4 linked regions of the Homo sapiens genome follow. The protein of the gene in region 1 interacts with the protein of each later gene in a pairwise test. Each region holds a gene or a part of one and is shown in the gene's direction. Other genes may lie near its edges.

Region 1 (5,919 bases):
CATACTAAATATTTTCTGTGGATTATCTCATTTAAATCTCATAACAATCTGTTGAGGTCTCTAAGGTAAGTGTAAGCCAGATTTTAGAGATGCAGAAACTGAGGCCTAGAGAGAATAACTTACCCAATATTATACAAACAGCAAGGGGTAGAGCTGGAATATGAATACAGACAAACTACTTTTAGAGTCTGCATTTGCATTTTTTTTTGAGACGGAGTCTTGCTCTGTTGCCCAGGCTGGAGTGCAGTGGTGCAATCTCGGCTCCCTGCAACCTCCGCCTCCCGGGTTCAAGCCGATTCTCCTGCCCCAGTCTCCTGAGTAGCTGAGATTATAGGTGCCTGCCACCACACCTGGCTGATTTTTGTATTTTTAGTAGAGATGGGGTTTCACCATGTTGGCCAGGCTGGTCTTGAACTCCTGACGTCAAGCGACCCATCCACCTCAGCCTCCCAAAGTGCTGGGATTACAGGCATGAGCCACTGCATCCGGCCTGCGTTTGCGTTTAATATAATGTCTTCTTCCCCATTCAAATCACACTACAACACAGACACTTTACCTTAGGCTGAGTAATAATACCTGTCCCTAAACCACCCTACCCCCATGTCCTAGGGGCTTACCTGAGGATCATGGTAGGTTATGCTGCAGTAACGTAGAGTCTCCAAATCTCAGTGGCTCAACACAATGAACGTTTTTTTTTTGTTGGTTTTTTTTTTTTTTGCTTGTGCAACATCTGATGAGGGCTGAGCTGCTTTCCTTGGCAGCTCTCCATGCAGTAACTCAGGGATCCAGCTCCTTCCATCTTGTGATGCCATTCTCAATTCTTGGTCTTCCAGCTGCCACCAAGGGGAGAGAGCTGTTCTTAAATCCCTGAGCCCTCCCCTCTCCACAAGTCCTCTTTGGTAGCCTTCAGAGCTCCTAGCTCCAAGTTGGGCTGGGTGATAGGAGCAAGTTAGTGTGCTGGTGGCATAGGCTCTTCTGAATCCCTCCAGATCCTTCTGTATACTCTCCCAGAAGCTGACTTAGATCTTTTCAGGTATTGGGAACTGACACTGGTGGAAAAACAGACAAGAAAAAGTTTTAAATACAAATGAACTCTAAATTCTTTAACCACGAAGAGGCACTAGGCATCATCATTTGCTGGGTTTAGCTTCCTCCTGGCGACAGGTGGCCACAGGGACTATTACTACTTTGATTCTGTCTCCAAGGCCCTTTTCAGCTAAGTCTGGGTGTCAAATGTTTTTGTTGAAATTTTGCTGCTTACCAGGAGCAACAGCATCTTAACTGCAAGCCTTAAGCCTTTTTTCAATTCATCTGAAATAGTGATTTTATTTGCTTCTTTTCACCTCTGTCCTAATTGGGCCCTGTCTCCAGACAGATAGGGTGTGTCCCCACTTTCATTCTTCCAAGGCCCTTCCACTGACCGAGACACTAGATTGGAAGCTGGCAGAGAATCAAGGGCTGGCTCTAGGCGCTCAGCATTTAAATATTCAAAGTTATGACACATCATTACTTATTCAGAGCTCACTCTCTAAGTCCTCTAAGGCAGAGCCTGTTGCAGACAGTAAAACTCCTGACAGTGAGTACAAGGCACACTGAAAAGCTACTTGTAAGGCAGGAAGTCCAGTGAAGAATGAGAATGTGGAAGGAAACCTCGGGCCTGAGTTATGTGAAGCTCTCTTCTCTGAGCTGGGGAGGCACACGCAGCGTGGGGGCACACTGTGGCTTGGTGAGCAGGCCGAGCTTTGTCTCCCCACGTCCAGGCAGCACGGCATCCTGTGTCTCCTGGGTTCAAGTGATTCTCCTGCCTCAGCCTCCTGAGTAGCTGGTATTACAGGCACGTGCCACCACACCCAGCTAATTTTTGTATTTTTTAGTAGAGATGGGGTTTCACCATGTTGGCCAGGCTGGTCTTGAGCTCCTGACCTCAGGTGATCCACCCACCTCAGCTTCCCAAAGTGCTGAGATTACAGGGGTGGGCCACCACGCCCAGCCTAAAGTATTTTAAATTATTCTGTTTCTGTTTCTTGAATTGTGGATCCTTCAGGTGGATCCACAGCCAGTCAGTGTATTGGACCTGCTGACATGCCTTCATGAATTGTTTTTCATGCAATTTATAAGCTTTTCATTAGCTCTTCCTTGGAGGTTGTGGGGGCATCCCTGCAGAGCAGTTTTATGTTTGCCGTTGTCGAGAATCTCCAGGTTCACCGTGGGACTAGTTTTTCTGTTAATTTTTCAAATGGAGATGTCTTCACCATAAAAGCAGTGTATTCCAATTGCTCAGGCCTGGAGTTACAGTTTTTATGGGTAATTCATCTCATTCATGGTAGATGGTCAGCTTCCGTGCTGCTTTCCTAGACCAGTAGCTGGAGTTTTTCTGTTTCTGGTTTTAGTAGCACAGCAGCTCATTGTGCTGTTCGGCTTTATGCAGACAGCCCTATTCCAGTGTTCAGCCCTCTGCAGGACTGAGGCTCAGCATCTATTCCTGGTAGACCCTGCTCCAAGCCTGTAGGGCCTCAGTCAAGGCCTGACCCATTGCGGGGGTCCTTGGCATGAGTGCCTGCCCATTTCCTACCTTTTTTTTTTGAGACCGAGTCTTGCTCTGTTACTCAGGCTGGAGTGCAGTGGCGGGATCTCAGCTCACTGCAACCTCCACCTCCTGGGTTCAAGTGATTATCCTGACTCAGCCTCCTGAGTAGCTGGGATTACAGGTGCCCACCACCATGCCCAGCTAATTTTTGTATTTTTAGTAGAGATGGCGTTTCACCACGTTGGCCAGGCTGGTCTTGAACTCCTGACCTCAGGTGATCTGCCTGCCTCAGCCTCCTAAAGTGCTGAGATTACAGGCGTGAGCCACTGCACCCAGCCCCCACCTATTCTTTTAAGTCCATTCATTTGTTTTTTGGTGTTTTCTTTTTTTTTTTTTTTTTTTTTTTTTTTGCCAAAACCAAATACTTCTGAAAGGTCCATTCATTTATTGAATGGTTTCCTCTTCGTTTCTGGGATTTACTTTCTAAGCTTCCAGCCTAGGCTATATATTAAAAAATTTTAAATTACATTTTATCCAGCAGTTGTATATGTTTAGAGTTAGAAGAAGCAGATAAGATGTTTTCATTCCTGTTCCATGACATGGAGAGCCTTTCCATGTCAGCTTGATCCATGATATTCTCCTGAGGCATTAGATTGTTTTCTGGATTTGCCTAGGTCTGGTGTCTTCAAATTGGATTCACTTTTTATACATACAGACACTCCCTTGGCTCTTTAACCATATATATTTTATTTTTTATCTCCCTTGTTAATAATCCTTAATTTAGTAACTCTGTATGCATGGCGCTTATTTGGGGTCTCACAGCACAGACACATGAGAGGGGTAGGATAGTCTCCTGGCATGACCCCAGAACGTCCGGATCTTCAGGCCACTCAGACAGCTGCTCTGGGGTTAAGTCAGATAACTCATCACAGGTGACATCCTATTCCAGTGTCAGTGGAGACTCTCCTAGCGTCTGTGTGACAAAGCTCTTTTCCTAAGTGACTCTGACTTGGTTATAGTAAATTCTCTACAATGAAGGCTTCTCTCTGGCAAACACATCTTCTAATTCCTAACTACTTAACAGTCATTCTTTGCAGTAAAAATGTATCTGCTCATTGCTGTTTGCGGGAGTGAAAGGGAGGAGGTAAAACATGCTGAGCTGTAGCTGAGTTTGTCACAGCTTTCCTGGTTAAACAGCAATCATTATTCAGTTTCTTTTCTCCCTGTCCGCAACCAACCGGACCAAGTGTAAAAAAACCACACACCTGAAGTCCTAAATCATGGGCCAGAGCCACATAGGCCAGGGCAGGATCTTGGAGGAAGAGAGAGGGGGAGAGTTTGGATAGACTTACTTCCTTCTGGGCCTATGATCCACTTGCCAAATAGCTACAGATGGGACCTCAGTTCCTTCTTCCAGCTGGGAATGTAATTTCCATGATTGTTCTTTTCATGACAAAATGAGGAGGTAATGGAAAGTTTGGGTGGCCCGAGGCTGAGGTTAAAAGAGAGTTCCACCTGTCCAAGTACAAGGTGTTCATGAAGACTTCGGGAAAGGAGAAGGGAGAAACACAAAGGAAAGCCAGGCAGGGAGATCCCATCGCTGCCGCCGGCCCCGAGAGGGAGAGCGCGACTATCACAGGAGTGGGGCTGATTGATTCTGTGCAGGGTGGGCCTGTTGCTGGGGACTCTGTGCTGTGCTGTTGTGACTGTGTGGATGGAGAAGGGACTGTAGCCCTGAGAGGGAATGGAATAGCCCCTTAGAGAACCAAAGATTGCCCCTTTACAGAAGGGAGCCTGCCCAGACCTGCCCTGGTGAGTCTGCTTTTTGACAGCATTTAAGGCAGGGTCCTCCTAGCTGTTGCTAAGGCTGTTTTCTTTCCCATGTATGCAGCTTGAATTAGATTATAAAGCCTTTCCCTCAGGCCTGTTAGTGCTCGTTTTCCATCATTTATCCTGAAAGAGCGACTTCCTTAACATGGCTGGAGACCCTGCACAGTCTGGCCCAGCCTGCCTCCCAGGCTCCTCCTCGCCCATCCTCACCCGTTACTCTGCACCACAGCCCCCCGACCTCCCTCTGTCCTTGGGCTCTGTGCTCCCTTCTGCCACAGGACTCTTGCACATGCTCTTCTCTGGCTGGGACACTCTCCCCTCTTCCCTTTACTTTGTGAACCCATTGGTAAAACAATATAAGCTCTCTCTTCCAACTTTATTAGTTCTAGATCAAGCTGAAACTCTTAGAGCTGTAATGGAAAGTAACTCCCTTCAGGAATAGGGCCACTTGGAGTCTCCACAGGAGACTGAAAAGGAGATCACCCCATATTTCAGGAGAAAGGCTTGGTATTAACCTATTATTGATGTGTAATACTTCCTTCTTTTGTAATTTCCAGACATAACTTTCCATTTGAAGATGCTTAGTTTCTAAATAATTTTTATTGCATTTAGCAGAATTGATAGTTTGTTGGTACAATATTTAGAAACGAATGAAGAAGCAGATAAGATGTTTTCATTCCTGTTCCATTCAGCATTTGTCCATGTGCCTGCACATCCTGGTCACTGAGTGGATTGACATGACAAGATTATGTGATCCTGTGATCCTTTGTTGCGTGGCAGCAACATTGATGTAGAAGCTGGTTGCATGGAGTAACTGCACTTACATTGCCCTCACTGGGCATCATCCATGTTCCTTAGCCCAGAGGACACTTCCTCTCCACTCTGCCTAGGCTGGCCCACACCCCGGGTCCCACATACCTTTCAATGCCTATGTCAAGTCTTCCTCCAACCACAGTAGCCTACTATTATCTCTGTTTCCTTTGAACAATTTGTCCATACCATTCATTTATAACTTGGCATATACTGCCTTGCCTGCAGTTTAGGGCTGATGTTTGGAGAACAGGAACTATGTTATTTATCTTTGCTCTCTCTGCTGTGCCTGTCCTGGGGCATGTGGTAGGTGCTGGGTAAATAGTTATTGGTGCCTCTCAAGGCACTCAGTGAATGCTCAGAACACTTGGTTAAGATTTACAGACAATGATGGAAAAGTGACTCTTCTCTTCTTCCTCTCTAGTTACAAGTTGTTTCCAAATTGCGTCCCCTCCTTTGGGTTCCGCCATCTGCTGCCTCTCACAGACAGAGTGGACAGCTTCAATGAGGAAGTTCGGAAACAGAGGGTGTCCCGGAACCGAGATGCCCCTGAGGGGGGCTTTGATGCAGTACTCCAGGCAGCCGTCTGCAAGGTAACTTTCCTTTCTGGTCCTGTCCCTGCATGGGGAGGTCAAGGTAGAGAGCGTCAGTGGGTGTTGGTACTTCCTGCAGGAGTCTTTGAGTGCCCCAGCATGTGGCTCCTGACCACTCTGAAGTCAGAGGGTGAGCTCAGTGGAACTTCTGGGAAATCT
Region 2 (5,919 bases), on another chromosome or scaffold:
TGGGGGTGTGCCTGTAGTCCCAGCTACTCAGGAGTCTGAGGTGAGAGGATCACTTGAGCCCAGGAGACGGAGGTTGCAGTGAGCCCAAATCTTGCCACTGCACTCCAGCCTGGGAGACGGAGCGAGACCCTGCTGGGAAAAAACAGAAACAAAAACAAAAAATAGATTCCAAGGGACCTTCTCTGTAGGATATGGGGTGATTGTGGGTATAAAGATTAGTGGTTCCCATCTGCATGGAGTCACAGGGGAAGTCTCTGTATTAAGGATGGGGGAGCCTCATTTCTGTGGGCACTGAGGCTTCCCCGTGTAGGAATTAGCGGGGCTTCTTCATGCAGGGAATGGGGTCCTTTTTGCGGGGTTTGGGGACCTTCTTTGAATGGGGAACACTTTCTGTGGAGATGAGGCTTTCTCTCTATGAGGAACTCACCGCAGGAATCATGCACCGCTGGGCGGACCCCCTCCTGGGATGTCTGGTCCGCTGGCATCAGGCCAAGCAGGCTGTGGGGTGGGTCCAGCCCCTACTGTAGCTGCAGACCCAGCCGGCAAGGAACAGCAGGCAGGGCAGGGGAAGGATGCTGCGGTCAGCACCAGGTGTCCAGTTTCCAGCCCAGAGGGAGAGCTAATTATACCCTCGGACCCAAAAGGTCAGGGCGTGGTGGCCTGGGCGGATGGGGCAGGGCCTGCTGGGGGTAAGGGAAACCCGATCCCACAGACTCTCAGATCTGAGATAAATTTATACCTAGGGTGGGGGCCTGGACTCTTGGGTCTGAGGGAGGAGGGGCTGGGGGCCTGGACTCCTGGGTCTGAGGGAGGAGGGGCTGGGGGCCTGGACTCCTGGGTCTGAGGGAGGAGGGGCTGGGGGGTCTGGACTCCTGCGTCTGAGGGAGGGGCATGGGTGTGCAGACCGCATGCTCAACTATGACTGTCCCCTACCTTACAGCGGCCAAAAAGGCCCCCAAAGGCAAAGATGCCCCCAAAGGAGCCCCCAAGGAGGCTCCCCCTAAGGAGGCTCCTGCAGAGGCCCCCAAAGGTGAGGAGGTGCTCCCTCGGGCTCAACCGACCTGGCTTCTCATCTCCATCCTCCTCGCTACGCCTCTCCAGGCCTTTCCCCAGCCTCTATCCTTGAATCTGTCCCCGCACAGCCCCAGGGCTGACCCACGCCTCCCGTGCTCCCAGCCCTCCCGGGGCTCCCTGGCACCCGCAGGCAGAGCCCAGCCCCTCGGCTGGCATCGGCTCCGGTCAGCTGGCTGATTGATCACCAGGTCCGGCCCCGGTCTCTCTAAACCTCTCCCGCCCCAAAGGCACATTCAGTGCCCTCCAGTCCACAGATGAGGAAACCGAGGCCCAAAGGGGTGAGGGAGCCTGGCCAAGGTCACACAGCCACGAGGGTGACAGGTGGCCTTTCCCAGGTCAGGAAAAGCCATTTAACCCCCATGATGTTTGGTTTCTGAGTAGAGGGGCCCTCACTGTCTCTAAGTCCTTTCCCCAAAGCGGCCCACTGTCCCCTCCCCAGCCTATCTCAGACCTCCTCATCCTAATCCTGTCCCCTGAACAGAAGCCCCACCCGAGGACCAGTCCCCGACTGCAGAGGAGCCCACCGGCGTTTTCCTGAAGAAGCCGGACTCCGTCTCAGTGGAGACTGGTGAGGGGAACCCGGGGGAGGAGGGGCTGCGGCCCGGACTCCTGGGTCTGAGGGAGGAGGGGCCAGGGTCTCGTTCTGTCTCCCTCTGGAGAGCCTTATGTTCCTTCCTGGGCCTCCTCCCACTCTACCCTGTCACTCACCCCATGTAGGGAAGGACGCAGTGGTCGTGGCCAAGGTGAACGGGAAGGAGCTCCCAGACAAACCGACCATCAAGTGGTTCAAGGGGAAGTGGCTGGAGCTGGGCAGCAAGAGTGGCGCCCGCTTCTCCTTCAAGGAGTCCCACAACTCCGCCAGCAATGTGAGGACCCCGTGGGCCAGAGGGCTGGTGGAGGGGAGTGGAGCTTGTGCAGGACATGCTCCTCAGAAGCCCTGTTGCCTGAGGCATCAATGTGGGCCTGGAGCCGGGATGGAGAGTGGGCCCTCTGAGGATGGAGGTTGTGCGGGGCTGCTGGGGAGAGGTTGTGTGAAGCAGAGGGAGGATGCCTGGGGTTGGGTGGGGATGCATTAGGGCTTGGTCATGTACATTCCTGGCAAGGCCTGAGGGGGCCAGGGACCTGGGCCCCAGAAGTCCTGATGGGTCAGATATGAGGAGACAGAGCTGGCCACCAGGTGCTGAGACCCCTCTCGGTCTCCATTGGCCCCCCTGTGGGGTGGGGGTGAGGACGTGGAGATAGAGCTATGAGTGGACTCTGAGGAATATGGGGTGGCTCTAGAGGGTGGTCCCGTGCACCCACACCCCCGGCCCTGGACCCAGGTGTACACCGTGGAGCTGCACATTGGGAAGGTGGTACTGGGGGACCGTGGGTATTACCGCCTCGAGGTCAAAGCCAAGGACACCTGTGACAGCTGTGGCTTCAACATCGATGTGGAGGGTATGCTGGTGGGGGATGCGGGAGCAAAGGGTTCTATGTCTGGGTGGGGTGGACAGATGTACCAGCCAGGTGTTGGGAGAGTGCACAGGCATGGGCATGAGGTGGGCACAGGTTTTTGGAGGAGGGAGTGCAGATTCTGGGGTCAGAGTATTCAAACTCAAGGAGACATAGCATGGGAGGAGGTCTGGATTTCGGGGGTGAAAGTGTACAGGGTCTTGGGATGCACATGCAAAGGCTTAGGAGGTGAGTTATGCACATTCCACGTTTAAGAAAGTAGGCAAAACGGCTTGGGAAGTGAGGGTGTCCAGGTTTAGAGAAGAAGGATGTAGGGGTTTAGAGTGAGGGTGTACAGGATTAACAGGAGGTTACACGGATTTGAGGGCACATATATGGGCCCCTGAGGGTGTATGGGCTCTGGGGGTCTGCAGCCCAGAATGTGTGAGGGCTTAAATGTGGGGTGCACAGGAAATGAGATTGTCCAGGCCTGGGGAGAAAGACATGGTGGCCCAGGTGTGGGGGGTATAGGCTGCTGAGAGAGGGTGGAGCTTGGCAGCTGGGGAAATGAGTATGAGCTGGTCTAGAACTAGAGGATGCCCAGGCCTGAGCAAGGTTGTGCTGGTCCAAGAGATGGAGAAAAGGGGGCCTGGAAGAGGTTGTGCAGGCCTGGAGAGGGGCTCTCAGTCTAAGATCAGCCCTGGCCTCTAACTCACCTTCCCTTCTCTCATCACCTCTCCCCAGCACCCCGTCAGGATGCCTCTGGGCAGAGTCTAGAAAGCTTCAAGCGTACGTAAGTGACCCCAGGCCCTTACCAGGGTCCCAAGGACCATGGGAGGCTCTCCCTTGGAAGGGGAAAAAGGGAGGATTGGGGAAGGCAAGGGGTGAATCTGAAGGGTCAAGACTCACATGCCCTCTCAATGGCCACAGGAGTGAAAAGAAGTCGGATACTGCAGGTGAGCTGGATTTCAGTGGCCTGTTGAAGAAGAGGTGAGCCCCGGACTTGGCACAGAGAGGGGAGATGGGACTCAAGGGGAGGAGGTGGTGGGTGAAGCTCCATGGCCCACTGATTCCTCCTGGACCCACTGCTTATCCCTCTACCACCTCCATCTGTTCACTCCCTGCCCACCCAGCATCTAACACACCAACCCATCAGGCTGCCTGTTCATCCACCCACCTACCCATTTACCCAGACCCCTACCCACAACCCCACCCAGCCAAACATCTGCCATGAGTTCACCCACCTTCTCACCCCTTAACCCACCATTCTCACACCCACTCTGCTGTTCACTCAGGCTCTAGTTCACCTATGCCTCCACCTACTCACCCTCCCATCCATCCATCCCTCCATCCCTCCACTTTCCACCCACTGATCCATTCACTCACCCATCCATCCAACCAGTGGCCTATTTATGTATCTACTAATACATCTATCCACCTACCTGCCCAGTTGCCAATCTATCTACCCACATATCCATCCGTTAACCACCATTTTCCCACCTGTTTACCTGCCCATCTGCCATTACAGTCAGCCTAGCTACATGGGTAGGTGGATGGATAACGGGTGAATGGGATGTTGGATTTGGTTGGGAGATGCAGGTGCAGATAGACAGGTGGGAAGGTGGGTGGATGGTACGGATGAATGCATGGTGGAGAGGTGGGAGGATGGGTGCCTCAGTAGGTGGGGAAGCGGATGGATGGATGGGGTGGGTGGACGATGAATGGATGGGTTCATGAATAGGTGGCTGAGTTCACCAGTGAAGAGGTGGGCAGTTGACACGCCCATCCACACAGATAGCCCTCTGTTAGATTGAACTATGTAAAATTGATGTTCTGCAGGTAAAAAATGATTGAAGTCTGGGTGCAGTGGTTCACGCCTATAATCCCAGCACTTTTGGAGACCAGTGTGGGAAGATCACATGAGCCCAGGAGTGTAAGACCAGCCTGGGCCACATAGGGAGACCCTGACTCTACAAAAAAAAGAAAAATTAGCAGGGCATGGTGGCATGTGTCTGTGGTCCTAACTACTTAGGAGGCTGAGGGAGGAGGATCGTTTGAGCCCAGGAGATCAAGGCTGCAGTGAGCCATGATCGCGCCACTGCACTCCAGTCTGGGCAACAGAGTGAGACTGTTTCAAAAACAACAACCACAAAAAATTAAATATCGGCAATCTCATATGCATTATCTGCTGGCCCACTTATCCATCTTCACTTGCCCATCAATCCCCATAACTATATCCCTGACAATTCCATTTACTGATCAATTCTGTCTGCAGCCAGCCAGCCACTTCCTTGGCCACTTCTCATCAACATATTCACCCAACTGCGCAGTCATTTCTCACCAACCCATCAATCCATCCACTCACCCACCTGTCTTCCCCCAACCCATCAATCCATCCACCCACCCACCTGTCTTCCCCCAACCCATCAATCCATCCACCCACCCACCTGTCTTCCCCCAACCCATCAATCCATCCACCCACCCACCTGTCTTCCCCCAACCCATCAATCCATCCACTCACCCGTCTTCCCCCAACCCATCAATCCATCCACCCACCCACCTGTCTTCCCCCAACTCATCTGCCTCTCTTCCCACCCACCCTTCCACTGACCCACCCACCTACTTATCAGCCCACTTACTCACCATTCTGTACATCAATTCAAATATTCATGTCCCCACATTCACCTCCACATCTATCCTCTCTTTGTTCCTTTCCCTTCCTTCCTTCCCTCCCAAGCTCCATCCATGCATTCACTCACTCTCTCACCCATCAACCATCTTCTGAGGCCTCCCGTCTACTAGGTCCTGGGCTGAGATCCATGCATTCACTCACTCTCTCACCCATCAACCATCTTCTGAGGCCTCCCGTCTACTAGGTCCTGGGCTGAGATCCATGCATTCACTCACTCTCTCACCCATCAACCATCTTCTGAGGCCTCCCGTCTACTAGGTCCTGGGCTGAGATCCAGGGAGAGAGAACAGTCTGACTGGGTCCCTGATGTGAGATCACTCATTGCCTTGGGAAATGGGTCTTGTCCAACAGACATAGATACAGACTGAGACTATTTGGTGTGATTTTAGAGAGGGTCCCACCGGGGCCTGTGAGAGCCCAGAGCACGAGCAACTCACTGTCTTGTAGGACACGGAATGCCTCAGGGAGAAGGGAACTTTGGTGCTAGGTCTTGTAGGATGAAGAGGAGTCTGGGAGGAAGAGAAGGTAGGGAGAGGTCATGAAGGTAGGGAAACATTTTGTGCAAAGGCTGGGAAGCAGGAGAGAGCCTGAAGTGTTCAGCAAAAGTCAAGCAGCTTGGTTCAGGTGACTTTGGGGGGAGTGACGGAAGTAGCTGGGGTGTGATGGCCAGGCGGAGGGCTGGGGCTTCCTCCTGAGGGCAGTGGGGAGCCACAGAAGAG
Region 3 (5,919 bases), on another chromosome or scaffold:
GGCGTGTGCCACCATACATGGCTAAATTTTTTTTTTTTTTTTTGTAGAGATGAGGGTCTCTCTGTGTTATCCAGGCATCTCTCAAACTCCTGGACTCAAGGCATCCTCCCACCTTGGCCTCCCAAAGTGCTGGGATTACAGGCATGAGCCACCACACCCACCAGATTATGAACATTTTTATGGCCCTTTGTGTGTATTGCCACACTGTTATCAGCACATATGTGTATATGTAACCACGATCATATATGTTGTTAGAGGGTAGTATTGGTGCCGGTTTAAGTTGTCTGACAGGGTACCTATTCATTTTGTATTAGTTTTATTAGAATTATTCTCCTTCCTTTCTATTCTCTTTGAACTTCCTTTGTATTGTTAGTATACAGCTCGTCATGATACAGCTCATCATGATCTCACGTTTATTAATGATTTATGCCTAGTTTCTTATGTTCCCACATAATTGTGAAGTATTTGATTTTTTTTTTTTAAACAGAGTTTCACTTTTGTCACCCAGGCTGGAGTGCAATGGTGCGATCTCGGCTCACTGCAACCTTCGCCCCCGGTTTCAAGTGATTCTCCTGACCAAGTAGCTGGCATTACAGGCACCTACCACTACACCTGGCTATTTTTTGTATTTTTAGTAGAGACGAGGTTTCACCATGTTGGCCAGGCTGGTCTCGAACTCCTGACTCAGGTGATCTGCCTGCTTCGGCATCCCAAAATGCTGGGATTACAGGCGTGAGCCATTGCGCCTGGCCTTATTCTTATTCATAATACTTAATCAGTACTCACTAAGTATCTGAAATTTTCTGTTGAGTAGTCACCAACTTGTACAAGAATTAGATTTACAAAAAGTAGATTGACCAGGCATGGTGGGCTTACAACTGTAATACCAGCACTTTGAGAGGCTGAGGCAGGAGGATCGCTTGAGGCCAGGAGTTTAAGATTAGCCCAGGCAACATAGTGAGAACTGGTCTCTACAAATAATGGAAGAAAAAAATTAGCCCGGCATGGTGGTGAACGTCTGTGGTCACAGATACTTGGGAGGATGAAGTACGGGAATCGCTTGAGCCCAGGCATTCAAGGCTGCAGTGCGCTGTAATCATGCCACCCGCTCTCCAACCCGGGCAACAGAGCAAGACCCTGTCTGAAAAAAAATGAAAAGGTAGATTGGGCCACACACCATGGCTCATGCCTGTAATCCCAGCACTTTGGGAGGCTGAGACTGGAGAATTGCTTCAGCCTAGGAAGTAGAGGTTGCAGTGAGCTGCGATGGTGCCACTGCACTCCAGCCTGGGTGACAGCGTGAGACCTTGTCTCAAGAAAAAAATGAAAGAGTAGATTGTAAAATGTGTTAGTCTGGGGAGACCCTTTAGAAGGAAGGACTGTGAAGTGAGATTTAGTGTTATTCTCCTTTCTCAGTTTGTTAGCTTTAGGACTGAAGCATTTTGAAGGAACTGAGTTTCCTAATCCTCTAATCAGCAAGTACCTTCTAACCTGCAAAACTGCCCACCAACTGACAGTGAGAATCAAGAACCTCAACATGAACAGAGCTCCTGACAACATCATTAAAGTGAGTGTTTCCTGCATGCGCCATCCGGGCACCTCACCAATATGTACCCATTCTTTTATCTTGTTATTCTCAAAGAAAAGAGGAACCTTCTTTTATCTAAAGCTAATTTCTCCCACTTTACACTAGATTAATTCCCCTATTGCCTTTTGGGCAATATTCCGCTGGCAGTATTCCACTTATTTGCTTTTTGTTGTTGTTGTTGTTAGACAGACTCTTGCTCTGTCACTCAGGCTTGAGTAGAGTGGCGCAATCTTGGCTCACTGCAGTCTTTACCTCCCAGGTTCAAGCGATTCTCCTGCCTCGGTGTCTCCTGCCTCAGCGTCCCAAGTAGCTTGGATTACAGGCATGCACCACCACACCTGGCTAATTTTTGTATTTTCAGTAGAGATGAGGTTTCACCATGTTGGCCAGGCTGGTCTTGAACCTCTGACCTCAAGTGATCCACCCGCCTTGGCCTCCCAAGGTGCTGGGATTACAGGCATGAGCCACCGCACCTGGTTTCTTCTTTTTTATTTAGATATTTATGTTGTGTTTTTAGAGACGGGTTCTTGCTCTATCATCCTGTTTGGAGTGCATTGGCTCAGTCATAGGTCACTGTAGCCTCAAACTCCTGGGTTCAAGTGATCCTTCCACTTTAGCCTTCCAAGTATCCTGGACTACAGGCGTGTTCCACCAAGGCTAGCTCATTATTTTATTTTGTGTGGAGATGCTGTGTCACTTTGTTGCCCAGACTGGTCTTGAAGTTTTGACATGTGTCAGTCCGCCTGCCTCAGCTTGGCCTCCCAAAGTGTTGGGATTACAGGCGTGAGCCACTATGCCCAGCCTTTTGTTTTGTTTTGTTTTTGTTTTTTTCTTGAGAAAGGGTCTTACTCTGCTACCCAGGCTGGAGTACAGTGGTACAGTCATAGCTCACTGTAAGCTCCAGCTACTGGGCTCAAGCATTCCTCCCACCTCAGCCTCCCAAGGAGCTGGGGATTATATGCATGAGCCACCATGCTTGCCTATTAATTTTTTTTTTTTTTTTTTTTTTTTTTTTTTTTTTTAAGAAATGGAGTGTCCCTATATTGCCCAGGCTGGTCTCGAATTTTTGGCCTTAGGCATTCTCCTGTCTCAGCCTCTAATTGCTACTTCCTGGTATATTGGATTTAGGCCTTATTTATTAACCATTAACCATAAGCCAAGGAAGCTGAGGATTTACCTGTCTCCTCACTCCCTTACTCCCACCACAAACATGCACATTTTCTGCTCTCCAATCTCCTCGCTAGTAATTATGTCACAATTTTGGTTAGGTTGTATTCAGGGTTTACACTATAAGATTTTAAGGACTGTATAAATACTCTTCACAGCTATGTTATTGTGATACCTTGCCTTTCCTGCTGAACATTTTGTTTTTCTTGGAGTAAATAATCGCATTTTTAGGGGGATGGGGCTGGACTTGATTTTATTATGTAATTATTCCCAGGTCAACAGTAAAGGTTACTTAAATTTTCTTAATCTCCTTTCAGCGTGTCTGGCCTTCTAGATATTCCGTCACTTTCATCTTGAAGGAATTGCTCCTTGAGCCCTCTGACACTATTCCACTCTAAGCGTGTTGCTCTCTGGGCTTGCTGCACTGATGTTTTGGGCTTTTTCCTCCCCATCATCCTGGGAATTCTTTTTGCCTCTTACTGTGTTGGATCTTCTTATTTCCTGAATTCTACATCTGTGTTTTTGTTTTACTTCCTTCCTTTAGTGAAACACATTCTAGTAGCATTTTTTATTTTAATTTTTTTCTAAATTTTTAAAAATTGAGGCCGTACACGGTGGCTCAGGCCTGTAATCCCAGGTCTTTGGGAGGCTGAGGCAGGCAGATGACCTGAGGCCAGGAGTTCAAGACCAGCCTGGGCAATATGGTGAAACCCCGTCTCTACTAAAAATACAAAAATTGACCAGGTATGGTGCCACTCACCTGTAATCCCAGCCACTCGGGAGGCTGAGGCACAAAACTCACTTGAACTAGGGAGACAGAGGTTCAGTAAGCGTGGATCACTCCCCTGCACTCCAGCCTGGGCGACAGAGGAGTCTCTGTCTCAAAGATCAAGAAGCAGAGAAACAAACAAAAAGTACAAAGATGTGCACAGAAAATGACACACAACTCAAACGTGAAGGAAAAAGATTTTTCTGCAGCAGAATACGGTTTATCAAGTGCCTTAGCACCACGGATGAAACTAGACAAATTCTAAGCCATATTATCATGAATTTTCAAAACATTGGAGCCAAAGGAAAAATCTTACATGCTATCAGAGGTTGGGAGAAACAGGTGTTACATGAATATTCAAGAGTTAAATGGGGCCGTGGCTCACGCCTATAATCCCAGCACTTTGGGAGGCCAAGGTGGGAGAATTACTTGAGCCCAGGAGTTCAAGACCAGCCTGGGCAAAAAAGTGAGACCTGTCTCAATTTTTTTTTTTTTTTTTGAGATGGAGTCTTGCTGTGTCATCCAGGCTGGAGTGCAGTGGTGTGATCTCGGCTCACTGCAAGCTCCGCCTCCCAGGTTCATGCCATTCTCCTGCCTGAGCCTCCTGAGTAGCTGGGACTACAGGCACCAGCCACCACGCCTGGCTAATTTTTTGTATTTTTTAGTAGAGACGGGGTTTCACCATGTTAGCCAGGATGGTCTCAATCTCCTGACCTCGTGATCTGCCCACCTCAACCTCCCAAAGTGCTGGGATTACAAGGTGAGCCACTGCGCCTGGCCTATTCTTTTTTTTTTTTTTTGAGACGGAGTCTCACTGTGTCACCCAGGCTGGAGTGCAGTGGCACTGTCTCTGATCTCAGCTCACCTCAACCTCCACCTCCCAGGTTCAAGCAATTCTCCTGCCTCAGCCCGCTGAGTAGCTGGGATTACAGGTGCGTGCCACCATGCCTGGCTAATTTTTGTATTTTTGTAGGAATAGGGGTTTTGCCATGTTGGCCAGTCTGGTCTTGAACTCCTGACCTTAGGTAATCTGCCCACCTCCGAAAGTGCTGGGATTATAGGCATGAACCACCACGCCCAACCTTCATTTACTCTTAAAATTGAACTTTCTCAGGCTCTTTTTTTCCCCCCTTCTCTTCTAATGCCTTTCACACCACCATTTGCTTAAAAGGAAGCTTTCATGTGTCCAAGGTATAGATTACGATGTTGTCTTTGCAGCTGTTGATCAAGAACAAATCTTACATAAGATTGCTCTGAGCATCTGCTTCCTTTTCTCTCTGTGACCTAAACTCTCCCCTTCCTGGCAACCAGAATGGAGATCATCAGTTAGAAAATATTGAATAATTGTGAAATATTTAAATAGAGATTAGTTTAATTTGAAATGTACAAGTATTCAGCATATGCTATTTATATATGTGCGTTCATGGATGTTTGTGTATGTGGTCTTGTGTGTGTGTGTGTGTGTGTGTGTGTGTTTCTCTTGATCCACCACCACCCCATTCACCAGCCTGACAGGGGACAGTGTTTCCAGAAGGAATGTAATTCATGCGCATTTTTTTCATGTTAAGTTTTATAAGAAGACCAAACAGCTGCCAGTCCTAGGAAAATGCTGTGAAGAGATCCAGCCACATCAGTGGAAGCCACCTATAGAGAGAGAAGAACACCGGCTCCCATTCTGGTTAAAGGTACAGCCCTCTTCCTCGAAGTCTGTAGGAGGCAGAAGGTCACTGAAAGTTCTGAGAGAATATCAAGGGCTTCCTTAATCGTCTAATGCTTTAGTTGTAGAACTAGGACTTTAGAAATCTTCCTGATTCACCTTTCTTCCCTTACTTTTCTGCCCTTCTCTGGGTGATTCTACAGCATTTTCAAAATAATAGGTAAAATAATAATTTGCTAAAGGAAATTCACAGAAGTTTCTAAAGTGTATAATTAGAATGTGGTCTTTGTAGATTTGATATGCAGAGAGACCCTTCTTGGAAAGATGCCTTGAGACTGTCTAAGGTCTCTAAAACCTAGAAAGCCCTATTGTTTTTCCCAAATTCTTTTTTTGTTGTTGTTTTGTTTTGTTTTTGAGACAGAGTCTTGCTCTGTCCACCCAGGCTAAGGTGCGATCTCGGCTTCTCGCAACCTCTGCCTCCCAGGTTCAAGTGATTCTCCTGCCTCCGCCTCCTGAGTAGCTGGGATTACAGGCACATGCCACCACACCCAACTAATTTTTGTATTTTTAGTAGAGACGGGGTTTCACCGTGTTGGTCAGGCTCATCCTGAACTCCTGACCTCAAGTGATCTGCCCACTTCAGCCTCCCAAAGTGCTGGGATTACAGGCGTGAGCCACTGTGCCAAGCCTCTTTTTCCCAAATTCTGACATATGCTGGATCAGAGTGTTCTTGTTTCC
Region 4 (5,448 bases), on another chromosome or scaffold:
CAGGTGCCTGTAATCCCACCTACTTGGGAGGCTGAGGCAGGAGAATCGCATGAACCTGGGAAGTGGAGGCTGCAGTGAGCCAAGATTGCACCACTGCACTCTAGCCTGGGTGACAGAGCGAGACACCATCTTAAAAAAAAAAAAAAATCTACAATATACCAAAACCATTACTTACCTGAGAAACTATTCTCAGGGTCATTGTAGTGAATGCCTATTTTATGGCTTTTGATGGCATCAGGGCACTCAGGTCATTTACAAGAGTAGTGTGTGAGACCCTGTGTGTCACTGCCACTCATCTTGGCCTTCGGCCACTGCTGTAGCAACCAGTTTCCAAGTAGGGCTGGACCTTGCCTTCTGCTCCAGAGACCTCTCGCTTCCTGCCCTTGGGCTTCTGACGAGCTGCAGGAACTGCCTGGCACGTGGGTCCCCACAACCCAGAGGAGGTGAGGGCCACCTCTCTGCTCCTCAGGGCCACCTTTCATAAGGCTCCTTGAAGGTCCCTCAAGATCAAGCCAACTCAACACATCCTTGATAGGCCTTCCTGCCTTCTGTTTCACTTCTCCACTCGTTTCCAAATAAATGGCTGCATGCAAGCTTTTGCCTCAGGTTCTGCTTTTAGGAGGAAGGCTAAGACAAGCAGTAAAGCAACATGGGCAGGCAGAAGGATGACTTCTAATAGAATTATCTCATCACTATATATTTTACTTTATGGATGCTTGTATTGAAAAGTCTTGGCTGGGTGGAGTGGCTCACGCCTGTAATCCCAGCCCTTTGGGAGGCCGAGGTGGGTGGATCACTTGAGGTCTGGAGTTTGAGACCAGCCTGACCAACACTGGTAAAACCTTGTCTCTATTAAAAATGCAAAAATTAGCCAGGGATGCACGCTTGCTGTGTGCCAGCACAGGGCTAGGCTGGAGATAAAAAGGTGAGTAAGTAGGTGCGGTGTAGTCAGGGTGAAAACTACAGATGGTCCATTTCCACGTAAGTGGAAAGGTAAAGGTATGTACAATAGGGTGGCTCCTGGCTGAACCTGGAGCTGCAGACAGGTTTTCTAGAAGGCATAATCCTGAAGTTGAGACTTGGGGGCCTAGGTAGGAGCCAGTTGAAGGGACGTGGGAGGCGCATTCCAGAGAGAAGGAGTGGTATGAGACTGGAACAGAGGTGTGCAGCAGCATCGCATGGGCGAAACAACAGTAGACAGTTGTTCTTTTGTTTTTGTTTGTTTTTTGAGACAGGGTCTTGTTCTGTCATCCAGGCTGGAGTGCAGTGGCATGATCTCGGATCACTGCAACCTCCACCTCCCAGGCTCAAGTGATCTTCCCACCCCAGTCCCCAAGTAGCTGGGGGACCACAGGTGCATGCCACGATGCCCGGCTAATTTTTGTACATTTTGTAGAAACAGGGTTTTACTGTGTTGTCCAGGCTGGTCTTAAACGCCTGAGCTTAAGCAGTCTACGTGCCTCAGCCTCCTGAAGTGCTGGGATTCCAAACATGAGCCACTGTGCCTGGCCCGGCAACTGTTACTAGACTGTAGAGAGGGAGGTGGGCAAGGGCTGGTGACACTAGACAGGTGCAGTAGGTCTGGACCATGGGTGGCCTTGCGCTACACATTACAGAGCTCAGGCTTTTTTTCTCCAGGTGAGAGGGCTGGTGCCACTGAGGCATCAAGCAGAGGTTTGAGATCTCCTTGGTGACAGTGTAGAGCAGACAGGTAGATTTGGGAATTTAAGCTTAGACTCACGTTGGAGACTGAGATAGCTCATCTGAGAGGCACTCAGGGCCTAATCTCAGGCAGTAATTTTAGGGATGTAGGGGAAGAGATGGATTCTGCACATACTTGGGAGGCTTGTGGAGGAGTGGGGAGGGAGGCACAGGGAGGACTCCAGGGTGGTTCATACGGCTCCCTGCTTCTGTTCCTGTCCCCCTTTGTCAAGCTGTGGTCTGTACTGCGTGTTCCATCTTGTTTCTAAGCTGCTTTTGCCCAGTCTTTCCAGCATTTCCCTTTCGTCATGTTAGTCTGTGCCTGTCTACGTGAACTATGGTGACGTTTATTGGGCCTGGCACTGTGAGGTGCTGGGGATGTGAAGATCATTGTGGCTCAGCCGCTGCTCTCGAGGGCCTCTGGGTGCAGTATGCACACCTGTGCCTCCTGTTTGCTCAGGAAGACAGGCTTTGAGATGAGCTGGGGCTGACATCCCCACCTTATCATTGGGATGGCTTTGGGTAAGTTATGTTCATGTTCTCTGAGCCTCCCTTTCCTCATTGGTAAAATGGGTATAAAATACCTGCCAGTGGAGGGTTGTTGTAAGTAGCCATGGAAAATGTAAAGCACATAGCACTTATCATTTTTTCCTGTGTCTTTAACAGATTTATCATAGAATCCCCGACTCAGACCCATCTTCTAGCAAAACAAGGCAGATCATCTCCACCATCCGGACGCAGAATCTTCCCAACTGTCAGCTGATTTCCCGAAGCCACTACTCCCCCATCTACCTGTCGTTTGTCATGCTTTTGGCTGCCCTGAGCTGGCAGTACCTGACCACTCTCTCCCAGGTAACAGAAGACTATGTTCAGACTGGAGAACACTGATCCCAAATTTGTCCATAGCTGAAGTCCACCATAAAGTGGATTTACTTTTTTTCTTTAAGGATGGATGTTGTGTTCTCTTTATTTTTTTCCTACTACTTTAATCCCTAAAAGAACGCTGTGTGGCTGGGACCTTTAGGAAAGTGAAATGCAGGTGAGAAGAACCTAAACATGAAAGGAAAGGGTGCCTCATCCCAGCAACCTGTCCTTGTGGGTGATGATCACTGTGCTGCTTGTGGCTCATGGCAGAGCATTCAGTGCCACGGTTTAGGTGAAGTCGCTGCATATGTGACTGTCATGAGATCCTACTTAGTATGATCCTGGCTAGAATGATAATTAAAAGTATTTAATTTGAAGCACCATTTGAATGTTCGTAATAGTAGAAAATGATGTGAATTTTCTTTCTGTTCGGCTCCTATTTTTCTCATCATTTTGTTTTCTTTAATTGGGTTGAATGGAGTAGATAGAAATATTTATGGTTTAGGTAACAGTTAGATGTTTCCTAAGAATGCAAACTGCCTTTTCCACACAAAGGCTGGGAATAAAATTCTGGGTATTCTCGTATTCTCATTTAAAGGAGTTTAGCTTTCAGAGAGAAACAGCAGGATTGCTTTTGACCTTTTAGAAGATTGGTCTCCAGTAAAGGTGGACATTTTTGAGATTTTTATAATAAAGAATTTAATTGCTCTGCATTTGTCAAGTACAGTTCGCTTGAAAGCCTGCCTGACTGTGGAAAAGATGGAGCTCAAGAATGGAGTTGATGGCCCAGCGTGGTGGCTCATGCCTGTAATCCCAGCACTTTGGGAGGCTGAGGCGGTCGGATCACGACATTAGGGGATCGAGACCATCCTGGCTAACACGGTGAAACCCCGTCTCTACTAAAAAAAAAAAAAATTAGCCAGGCGTGGTGGCGGGTGCCTGTAGTTCCAGCTACTCGGGAGGCTGAGGCAGGAGAATGGCTTAAACCCGGGAGGCGGAGCTTGCAGTGAGCTCAGATCGCGCCACTGCACTCCAGTCTGGGCAACAGAGCGAGACTCCATCTCAAAAAAAGGAAAAAATTGTAAAAAAAAAAAAAAAAAAAAAAAAAAAAAAAAAAAAAAAATTTCCCCCAGCAGTTTTTGTTTTCTAAAGTTATCAGTTTATATATTCAGGTCTTAAGAAAGGCAAAAGCTGTCTTCAGGTGATTGGCTTGGGGGCAGAACAGTACTTCTGCTCGGGGTTTCACCTTCCTCTCTACTCCAGTGCAGCAGAGCTTGTGATGTGCTCTCACTGAGGTGCTCAGTGCAGCAAGGAGGCCTGTGGACCCTCGAGTTGAGAATTGGTGTACTAGGGCATTCGGTACTTTCTAGAAGCCATTAATGCTACAGGTACTCATAAAGTCTACTCTTCTGCAGCCCATCGTGGATGGTGGCTTAATCATTGAATTTGAGTTGTTTCGAGCTGCAGCGTTGGATTTGCATTGTTGTAAGCACACTTTCTTGCTGTGACCACTGACACCAAAATTAGTTTGGGCCCAGGGAGACTTCAGTTAATTGGTTCATTTGAGGCTTAGCCCTGGACTCATTTGTCACCAGCCAAGATAACTTGCCACATGGAATACAGCCAGACCAGGGGTCCCCGACCCCCAGGCCTAGGACCGGCACTAAACCTTCTGTTACGTGGCCTGTTAGGAACCGGGCATCACAGCAGGAGGTGAGCGGCGGGTGAGTGAACATTATCACGTGAGCTCCACTCGGCGTTAGATTCTCATAGGTGCGATTGCGCGTGTGAGGGATCTGGGTTGCATGCTCCTTGTGAGAATCTAGTCCCTGATGATCTGAGGTGGCAGTTTCATCCCAAAACCATTTTCCTCCCTCTGTCCTTGGGAAAATTGTCTTTATGAAACCGGTCCCTGGTGCCAAAAAGCTTGGGGACCACTGAGCTAGACTCGACAGTATTTTCCAAGGAATTAAAGCCTCAAAACTTGGTTTGAGATTTCAGGGTAGGTTGTTAAAAATCTGTGTGTTGAAATCTAAGATTTAATTCTGCCAAAGTTCACGTTAAGACAGAACAACCTGCTGGAAAGAGATTTGGTCTGAGTGGGGCCTGTGGAAATCTTCTTTCCTGACTTGGTCATTACCTGTGGGACCACTTCCTGAGCTGTGTGGTTTGGGTGATCTCAGATTTTTTCTATCTATAAAGCTATGTGCTTTTTTCTACTCACTGAGTTGTAGAAAGGTATCCGCTCTCATTCCATTCTGAAGCTCTTTGAAAGCTTGTTTTCCTTCTAAGTATCTTCTCTACTAAGGTTGCCAGATATAATAGGGGATGCTGGGCATGGCGGCTCACACCTGTGGTCTCAGCTACTCGGAGGGTGTTGGGGCTGAGGCAGGAGGATCCCTTGAGCTCAAGAGGTTGAGGCAGAGGTTGTGGTGAGCCAAGATCACGCCATTGCACTCCAGCCTGGGCGACAGAGTGAGACTCTGTCTCAAAAAACAAACAAACTTGCATAACTGAAAATTCAGAAGTAGTTGGCCATCTTGTATTTCTGTTTGGTAACTCTGGCAACACTACCCTCTACTCCCCACTTCTAATATAATTTTATAGCATCTCTGGCATACAGTCTATTTGGATCCGACCTAATGGTGCAATATTTTGTTTTCCTCAGAGGAGCCTCTGACCCATGTGAATCTAGGACCATAAACAATTAGAATGCTTGGGAGCAAGAGCTTTATATCTGCATATGGGAACTTCCGGATCCCTGTGGGCAAGTGCAGGGAGGGCCCCTTCTTCCATCTACTGAGCCATTTCCCAGGGGCTCGGGTGTGTATAGGAGGAAGAGGGCGAGTCAGGCATGTTAACAAACATTCTAGGTTATTCTTG

The links.
Region 2: the proteins of ITGB5 (region 1) and MYBPC2 interact in a two-hybrid assay, tested with the Homo sapiens proteins (one large-scale study listed by BioGRID and IntAct).
Region 3: the proteins of ITGB5 (region 1) and GON4L interact in a two-hybrid assay, tested with the Homo sapiens proteins (one large-scale study listed by BioGRID and IntAct).
Region 4: the proteins of ITGB5 (region 1) and FDFT1 interact in a two-hybrid assay, tested with the Homo sapiens proteins (one large-scale study listed by BioGRID and IntAct).

What each region holds. Positions count from the first base shown.
Region 1 is NC_000003.12:124,841,224-124,847,142, reverse strand, and holds part of ITGB5 (integrin beta-5 isoform a precursor), read left to right. Parts: intron 1-5,591; coding exon 5,592-5,760; intron 5,761-5,919.
Region 2 is NC_000019.10:50,434,221-50,440,139, forward strand, and holds part of MYBPC2 (myosin-binding protein C, fast-type), read left to right. Parts: intron 1-940; coding exon 941-1,030; intron 1,031-1,555; coding exon 1,556-1,642; intron 1,643-1,791; coding exon 1,792-1,940; intron 1,941-2,396; coding exon 2,397-2,514; intron 2,515-3,252; coding exon 3,253-3,301; intron 3,302-3,438; coding exon 3,439-3,498; intron 3,499-5,919. UniProt on the Homo sapiens protein: Thick filament-associated protein located in the crossbridge region of vertebrate striated muscle a bands. In vitro it binds MHC, F-actin and native thin filaments, and modifies the activity of actin-activated myosin ATPase.
Region 3 is NC_000001.11:155,766,715-155,772,633, reverse strand, and holds part of GON4L (GON-4-like protein), read left to right. Parts: intron 1-1,416; coding exon 1,417-1,567; intron 1,568-5,092; coding exon 5,093-5,209; intron 5,210-5,919. UniProt on the Homo sapiens protein: Has transcriptional repressor activity, probably as part of a complex with YY1, SIN3A and HDAC1. Required for B cell lymphopoiesis.
Region 4 is NC_000008.11:11,836,021-11,841,468, forward strand, and holds the end of FDFT1 (squalene synthase), read left to right. Parts: intron 1-2,367; coding exon 2,368-2,589; 3' UTR 2,590-3,278; downstream 3,279-5,448. UniProt on the Homo sapiens protein: Catalyzes the condensation of 2 farnesyl pyrophosphate (FPP) moieties to form squalene. Proceeds in two distinct steps.